2 linked regions of the Homo sapiens genome follow. The protein of the gene in region 2 interacts with the protein of the main gene of each other region in a pairwise test. Each region holds a gene or a part of one and is shown on either strand. Other genes may lie near its edges. The genes, in order: FBXO42 and TPP1.

Region 1 (4,330 bases), on a different chromosome or scaffold from region 2:
TTTTATAAAGAGTTAATTCAGGGCCGGGCGCAGTGGCTCAAGCCTGTAATCCCAGCACTTTGGGAGGCCAAGGCAGGTGGATCGCCTGCGGTCAGGAGTTCAAGACCAGCCTGGCCAACATAGTGAAACCTTGTCTCTACTAAAAATACAAAAAATTAGCTGGGCATGATGGCAGGCACCTGCAATCCCAGTTACTCAGGAAGCTGAGGCAGGAGAATCGCCTGAACCGGAGAGGTGGAGGTTGCAGTGAGCCGAGATCATTGCACTCCAGCCTGGGAAACAAGAGCAAAACTATGTCTCAAAAAACAAACAAAAAGAGTTAATTCATTGACTAAAACAATTCTGAAATCACAAAGATAATTACGTATTTGTTCATCTTTGAGATAGCTTCTCCCTGGGACCTCAGTGTTCTCATAAAACTCAGACGTTTTGTTAGCATTTTCTTTGCTTGCTCTCCATAATAGGTAGGACTCACCCTGCTCTGAATCTTACTCAGGGTTTAAACCACATAAAGCTGTTATTAAAGACCCCTCTAGAAATCAGACAAGAAGAAGCATCCTAAGCTATTTTTTTTCTGATCCTGTTCTTTTTGTAACTAAGGTAAGGAATTGCAAAGGTCAAAATCTGGAGAGCAAATGATGTCATGGATGTCATGAAGTTGCATCAATACCTGATGATGATTTAGCATAACAGTGCAACATATTATGCCAAGAAGCATAATGATGAGCCACCAGGATGTTTTACTGCATTAATTTCATGACTCTTTATTAGCAAATTGATATGCAAAGTAGCTCTCCAATTTTCTACCACAGAGAAGCTGCTGGTTCAGATTTACATCTTTAGCAAAGACACTAAGAAAATCGACAAATTTCTATGGAAAAGTCTTTGATTTAAAAATAGAAAAGGAGGCTGGGCACGGTGGCTCAAGCCTGGGGTGGGGCAGGGTATCGCTTGAGACCAGGAGTTTGAGATCAGCCTGGGCAACATCGGTGAAACCCCGTCTCTACTAAAATTACAAAAAAAAAAAAAAAAAAAAAAAAATTAGCGGGCGTGGTGGCGCACACCTGTAATCCCAGCTACTCAGGAAGCTGAGGCAGGAGAATCGCTTAAACCCAGGGGATGGAGATTGCAGAGAGCCGAGACTGTGCTACTGCACTCCAGCCTGGATGACAGAGTGAGAAACTGCAAAAAAAAAAAAAAAAAGAAAGAAAGAAAGAAAGAAAGAAAGAAAGAAAGAAAATGGTCAAATAATAACCTAAACAGTTGTCATTTTAACAATGAAAAGCTTTTTAAGATACGCAACATGCCTATGGATCAATGTAGATTGAATCATCTATTTATACTGGCTTGTCAAAAGCAAACAGTTACTGGGTATAAAATGACAACATACAATAGAAAAGACACCCAATCAGATTACACACGTGAATACACTCAAAGTTAGCAATTTAACACAGCATCACTAATGGCCATAAGATATACAGACTTAATTCTAAATATTCAATTCTAAATGATGGTACTTCCCCCAAATTTTCCTTGCCTCTTTAAATCCATGATGTCATCATTCTTAAGCAGAAGTAAAGCCAATTTGTTACAAAAGATATTTTGGTGTGTCCAAGCAAAAGCAATCGCCTCAACAATTCTGCATAGCACAAGTTCAGTGAAGCCATCATTCCTCAAGAAAGAGACCACAAGGCTTCAAACCGACTTCCCTACATGACAGAAACACAATCGAAGTCTCCCAATTAGCATTTAAACAGCAATAAAAGTTGTTCTCAAAAAGGAACAACATAGTTTCAACGTCGGGGCCAGCAACTGCCAGCAAGTAAAACTGGTAATGTGTCAGAATCTTCATCTAGATCGATCAGAATCCCACCACAGAAAAATCCAGACTCTGGCAATTAAGAAATGAGGCTTTTATTTTCCTAACAGAAATCGGGAGATTTAACAGACAAAGCAATTGGTTATTCTGAATCTTAACAAACCGAAGGTTTCAAACGAACTCAGCGCTGAAGTTACTCTGCAGCGACCATCAAGATCTCACAATCGTTTTCTCTTCGCTTACAAATTCGTTCCCACCCTCCACCGTTCCCTTTGCACACACAATTCTCGCCAAGAGAAGCCTTCCACAGTCACAGCATGGATTGCTGTCTCAAGCAAGGAGATCCGCAGTTCCCATTTCTCTAAGGGAACACTCAACAAGCTAGGGGATAGGAAAGGCCTTTTGTGTTTTATTTAACGTAAACCAATTCCAAAATTATCCCTTTGCAGCTGCAGGTTCAGAGATGCTAGCCCCCAGCCGCAGCCCCAATTTTGATGGGCACCCGACCCCCGACTCCTCTCTCGCAAAGGAGTGAAATGTTCGGAGGAGCGATGAAAGATTACCTGACACCCTAAAGCCATCCTTGCCCGGGCCACACACCCCTTCACTGCCCGGGTGAGGGGACGAGAACCACCCTGCTGAGGAGAGGGGGTGGGTTCGCTCCCAACCCAAGGGCTGGCTGGAAAGGAGCTGTCCTCCTCCTCGCCTCACTCGAGGACGGCGATAGCAAGTCACCCTGCCCAACCAGGACCGACCCCCGCGTGGGATACGGGGCCTGCGTCAGACCCCGGGCGCCCGCTGCCCCTTGCCAGTCCCGGGCATAAAGGGCAGAAGGCGCCGGCTCCCCTCTGCGGCCCGGGGAGGAGGAGAGGCCTCACCTGGCCCAGCCCGCTCCACGCTCTCGGGTTCGCTCCGCTGGCGACGGTAATGAGGGAGCCAGGGACAGGGCCAGAGCAGAGGCGCTCTGCCTCAGGCCGCGACAGCCGTGCTCGGGGCTCCTCACAGCTGGCGGGACCCCGAGCCGCCCGGAGCCGCCATCTTCCTCCACTCAAACGCCGCCGCCGCCGCAGCTGCTGCTGCTCAGGCCGGGAGAAGACAGCGCAGAGCGCGCATGCGCCGGGGCGGGCGCGGCGGACGCGCGCGCACTCACGTCAGCGCGGCGGGATGGCGAGGGGCGGCCAGGGGGCGGCGCAGTGTTGAGAAAGGCCGTGGTCACAGGCCGAGGTTCTGTGGAGGGTGGAATGCGCTCGGGGGAGCTAGGCCTCCGCACCCGCCTTCGCCGCGTCTCTAGCGTCGACCTGATAGCCGCACCCACCCTCCGCTGCACTGTCTGGGGCAACTGGGTGGTTTTCCCGGTGGTTTGAGACTAACATTTAGCCAGGAATTAACTCACTTCTACCCCGAGGGCCCGATGAGCAGAGAGGGCTGTGGCGGATGTGAGTGCTCTTGGATATCGCCAAGGGGAGGGAAACTGTGCTTGAGGTGTGCAGGAGAAGTCTTCCCTTAACCGTAGCCTCGTAGCAACCACTGTGAGTTCTTACTAGCTCCACTTTTCAGATGAGGAAACTGAGGCACAGAAAACGATCACTTATTTGCCCGGAGTCACACACCTATCAGTGGAGGTGGGGCGGCGCGGGAAAGAGGATTTAAACTCAGGCTTGTCTGGTTCCCAAGCTCCTTTACTTCCTACTAGCTAGGTTATAGGATCCAGCAAAGTCCCCCTTCTCAAGGGAGCAACCTGGTGTGTAGGTGAGAACCTTCATGAGCCCAGCCCTACAGCATGTGGTCTAAGGAAATGCCAGATACAGAGTCAAAGGCTTCAGTCTAAACTCTGTAAGCCAAAAAAACAAAACAAAACAAAACAAAAAACTAAGCCCCCACCCCCCCCCCAACACCAAACCATCTGAACGGACTTCCTCCTAGGCCAGGGCAGTCTAAAATGTAACCAACCTGAGAGACTGGTTCAGGCCATGACGGGAAGCAGGACATGAGACATGCCTCATTACATCCTTCAGCATTGACATCAACACAACAGACCTTAAGACTGGTAAGAAACATTTACAATCTGTTCTCTCTGGAGCCCACCTGCCACTTGGAGGCTTCACGTGCGTGATAAAACTTTGGTGTCCACAATCCCTTATCATAACCCAGACATTCATTTCTATTGATAATAACTTTTTTTTTTTTGAGACAGGGTCTAACTCTGTTGCCCAGGCTGGAGTCCAGTGATGAGTTCTTGGTTCGCTGCAACCTCTGTCTTTCAGGCTCAAGCTATCCTCCTACCTTAGCCTCCTGAGTAACTGGGACTACAGGCGGGCACCACCATGCCTGGCTAATTTTTCCATTTTTTTTGTAGACACAGGGTTTCGCCATGTTGTCCACTCTCATCTCAAACTCCTGAGCTCAAGTAATCCACTTGCCTCGGCCTCCCAAAATGCTTGGATTACAGGCGTGTGCCACCGCACCAGGCCTATTGATAATAACTATTTCAACTCATTGCCAATCAGAAAA
Region 2 (4,377 bases):
CCACCCCCTTCCCCACTGTCCAGTCCTCTTGGTAGTACCAGGGCTACTGTAGACCCAGGTGGAGATGTTGGCACCAGCACTCATCAGGTACTGCACATCTAGACTGGCCTCAATCCCGGCCCGGCCCCGGCCCTGTTGTCCAACCACACGGGCTACTGATGCCTGATGTGCAAAGTTGCCACCGAAGAGGCGCATGAACTGAGCCAGGTCTGAGTCATGGAAATACTGCTCCAGGAACTATGGAGGGAGTCAGAGCAGAGATCGTGGGTCCGAGGGTGAGTCCCAGGGTGGTAAGGAATTGAGGACACTGTGGGGAGGCTATGAGGACCCTGGGGCTCTTTGCTTGGCTCACCTGGGCACAGGCTTGGCTGTTATTGCTGGTGCCAGAGCCCACGTCTTGTGAGGTCAAGTTGTATCGCTTACGGATCACAGAGGGGGTTACCCCCAGATGCAGGCCTACAGTCCCTGTCACCTGCGGCTCAGGACGTTGCCTCAGGGATGATGTTGGGGGAAAACGGTGCAGTCCCCCCACTGTAGGGAGAAGTCAGGCTTGAGGAGATCTTATAGACTGTAATGCCCACCTTACAACTCACCCCACCCCCAGTCCCCAATGGCATCTAAACTTCCTCAGCCCCTGGATCTGTGTGCCCCAACCCCCATTCACCCCATAGGTGTTACCAAAGTCCACATGGGGGGCCAAGGCCTGTGGAAGCTGGTAGGGATGTGGGGACCTTACAACATGGGTTTCCGTAGGTCCTCCCACATAGTGATGAAACTCAGCCCCAGGGAGCAGCAGCTCTGCTTGTCTGGAGGTCAGAGAACAGAGGTCAGAAAGCTCAAAACGGAACAGAAGAAGCTACCTCTGAGCATCCCTGGGCAGTCAGTCACTGTCTCCCCATGCATTAGCTCCCACCCACAAGCCCCAGCAAGCTCTCAACTCCCTCCCATCCATCTCACTGATGGGATGACTGGTGCCCTCCATGGAGCAATCATTTCCTCTCACCGGATGCTCAGCCAGCAAGTCAGAAAGTCCTGTGTGATCACAGAATGGCACTTCTGGGCTCCGGCTGCCAAGAGCCATTTTTGCACCGTGTGGAGGGTCAGTGGGGATGGCCTCACCAGATCAGCCACATTCTCTAGGGTCAGGTATTTTCCTGCAGGGATTCAGAAGAGGCACTTGCCCTCATTCATTGCTTTCCCAAACTCCCCCTTTTGGACCTCAACTATGAGACATCAGGACTTCCCAAAGCCTGGAACAGGGTAAAGGAGGGCTATGTGTGCAGGTGTAGGGTGTACTTGGGAAGCAGAGGAAGAAAAGGCTGGAGAGACTTGAAATGCCATGGCCAATAATATGGATTTACCCTAAAGGCCAGTAAGTTGCAAATGTCGCACCACAGCATGTATTGCCATGATCATGAAAATGAATGAGGTTAATACATATAAATTTTCCATTTTAATTTTAAGCTTATGTCCGGTAAATGTTTTCAAATCTTTCGGTACCAGTTATTCAGTTTAGCTCAAATTTGCATACTTGTTGATTTTAAGCTTAACACGATGGTGAGTCACTGTTTCCTGCCATGCACACTAGTGTCACACTGCCCCGTCCCCAGCCTCTGCAGTTCACAAGCACACACTCCCCCTGCTGTGAAGGGCTTTAACCAGGAGAAGGAACCAATCCATTTTGACTGTTGGAGAGACTGTTTTGAAGCAGAGTGGGGGAGTACAGTGAGGGGTGGGGTGGAGGGAGGAGACTGCAGATCAGCTGGGGAGCTGGGCAGTAGTCCAGGAGTGGGAATAAATAACGGAGTTGGTCGTAACAAAAGACGGCAAGAAGGAGATTAATCCAAAGGCTCTTTGGGAGTTAGAACTGGCAGCCTTAGTATGTGAACAAAAGAGGAAATTAGAATGGATTTGAGGGTAGGGGAAGGAACGTAAGTTGTACTAGATGCCTGGTAGCTAGTAAGTAGCAGAGTCAGAATTTGAGTTCGTATTTGATCATAAAGCCTGTATACTGAACCACATCCCCTTTTAGGTTTCTAGCCTGAGGAACACAAGTGTCTTGGCAGGCTCTGACATGATCGCCATCCCATGCCCAACCCAGCCCTGTGTCCCTCCACCGCATCCCACATCCTGTCCTCAGTCCCAAAAGGCACCGTATTGAGGAGAGCTGGGATCCGACACAGCCTGCACCAGCTCCGAGAGTCTTTCCACATTCTGCTGTCTCAGGGCAAAGGTGAGACTCAGCTCTTCCTCAGGGTCCGCACGGCCCAGGGACACCCAGCCTGGGGGCAGCCTGTAGGGTCAGGGGTCAGGGACATGGCTTTGGTTAGGGTGGAGATGGAAAATATTGGTCATGGAAGGTTCCAGATTAGGAGCTGAGACCTTGGGGAGGATCCTAGGAGCAGATACAGATCACATGAGGTGAATGATAGGGGACTGAGGCTAGGAACATAGAGATGAAGCTATGGAGTGCGTACTAGGAGCTGGCACGGGGGTGAGAGAAGCTAGGACCAGGACAGTGGGAGGCAGAACAGGGTATGGGGAAGGGGGCAGTCTGTGCTAAGTCAACTCACGTCCTCCGCTGGTCGGGCTCCGGGCTGTAACTGCATTTGCCAGAGAGGATGAGGGCAAAGAGCCCTAGGAGGCTGTAGGGGCAGCAGGTGGGTTTCAGTGGGAGCTACGTTGTCCTTGTGTTCCCACCCTCCCAATGTGTGCTCCCTCCAACGTGATCCCTTTCTCCCGAGCCCTCTCAATTTCTCACCAGGCTTGGAGTCCCATTCTGCCCTTCCGCGGATCTGCTGTCATGTGACGGATCACATGAGCTCTATATTCCACCACCACTACCCCTCTGCCTAGTAACTAGTGACGGTACTGGCTCCTCCCTTGCATGGGTGGTCCCAAATGCTAGGCAAGGGTGGGGCCGCCACCCGGATTCTCCCCTCTGGCCAGTCAAGCACTGAGTAAGCCCAGGGCTCCCCACCTGCGTCCTGAGCCTGGTCCCCTGGGAATCACCACAAGTGAGTGGGCTGTAGAGACCCACAGACTGGGGTTCTTCCTAGCTGTATGACATCAGCAAAATAACCTCTCAGAGCCTAGGTTTCTGCATTTACAATATGGAGACTTATATAAAAGTGATCTGCCTCGAAAGATTGCAGTGAAAAAATTTTTTTCCTCTTTTATCCTTTATGTCCCCATATTATCAATTTTGTCTTCATTTTACGACTACATTTATGAACAGAGTAAAGCTTTTGCAAGACCAGGATCCTTTTATTCAAATCAGTTTCCAGTTTTAAGTAGCTTCCCAGGAGATCTACAATCAGCTGGGGTCCTGTTTATTATGGGTTCCCAAGGTTTTCAAGGAAATCAACTTTGTTCTAAGGGCCATGGAGGAATCTTGCATCTTGTTTAGTGGGCTCAGGTGGATAAAATGGAAACGGACCTTTGCTTCTTCTAATGGTAACTCAAAGCCCACAAGGAGGTCTGAGTTTACTACTTCCAACTGGGGTCATTACAAGAGGATTTTCAATGAGAGTTAAAACCCTGAGGATTCAATTCCCTTCCAGTCTTCCTTTTTTTCCCCCCAAAAATCCATATGGAAGATGGTGTCAGCAGTGTCATTTTAACTTCCAAAACCATTAATCCAATACTCATGTGAAATCCCTTGTTCTGACCTCAATACTTTTTAGATAGATCCCTCTACTCCTGCTGTTGTCCTACAGGCCACTGGCTTCCATTAACCTATAGATTATATTCCCACACTGAAGATTATGGCACTTCACCTTTCTGTCCATCCCAACTCCTGCGATCATTTGACCTAGATGATCAAAATATCTAGGTAAAAGACCCATTCAACACCCTAACCTTCCATTTCTTCATCTCATTAAACCCAGTGAGCATTACCTTCACTTCACTTAAGCAAACCAGTCCCATGGCTGCATTGGGCTTGCTATCTCTCAAAACTGCTCTACCTTTGAAATTATAATTATAGAATGCTTTCTTAGACTATAACCTTCTGTTTTTTCAAGCCATTGTTTTTCCTCACTCCTATTAATCTGACTTCTCTCTGTCCATTGATCCCTCCAGTTTCCCACTAAGCGTGGATCCTAGAGCTGTATTTACTAGCATCATGCTCAGAAACATTTCCCTTTGACCACAACTTTTTTTTTTTTTTCTAATTTCCTCAATCTCATGAACTTCTCAAACACTGGCCAATTGCCTTTCCCTCACAGCCTGGCTCCCCAAAGAACAGGCAACACCAGTGGTTCCCAAATCCCTTTGTATGACTGTGAAAATTTACACTGAGATTAAGCAAGGCAGCCACCTGCAGAGAGCCTGACATGACAAAGGCTCAACAAATTGAGCTCTTTTTACAATGTG

Evidence for each region.
Region 1: the proteins of TPP1 (region 2) and FBXO42 interact in binary tests that used the Homo sapiens proteins (3 or more experiments, as listed by UniProt).

Annotation. Positions count from the first base shown.
Region 1 is NC_000001.11:16,349,558-16,353,887, forward strand, and holds the start of FBXO42 (F-box only protein 42), read right to left. Parts: upstream 2,924-4,330; 5' UTR 2,698-2,923; intron 1-2,697. UniProt on the Homo sapiens protein: Substrate-recognition component of some SCF (SKP1-CUL1-F-box protein)-type E3 ubiquitin ligase complex. Specifically recognizes p53/TP53, promoting its ubiquitination and degradation.
Region 2 is NC_000011.10:6,616,623-6,620,999, forward strand, and holds the start of TPP1 (tripeptidyl-peptidase 1 preproprotein), read right to left. Parts: upstream 2,801-4,377; 5' UTR 2,779-2,800; coding exon 2,762-2,778; intron 2,646-2,761; coding exon 2,574-2,645; intron 2,294-2,573; coding exon 2,154-2,293; intron 1,155-2,153; coding exon 1,004-1,154; intron 807-1,003; coding exon 679-806; intron 532-678; coding exon 353-531; intron 238-352; coding exon 39-237; intron 1-38. UniProt on the Homo sapiens protein: Lysosomal serine protease with tripeptidyl-peptidase I activity. May act as a non-specific lysosomal peptidase which generates tripeptides from the breakdown products produced by lysosomal proteinases. Requires substrates with an unsubstituted N-terminus.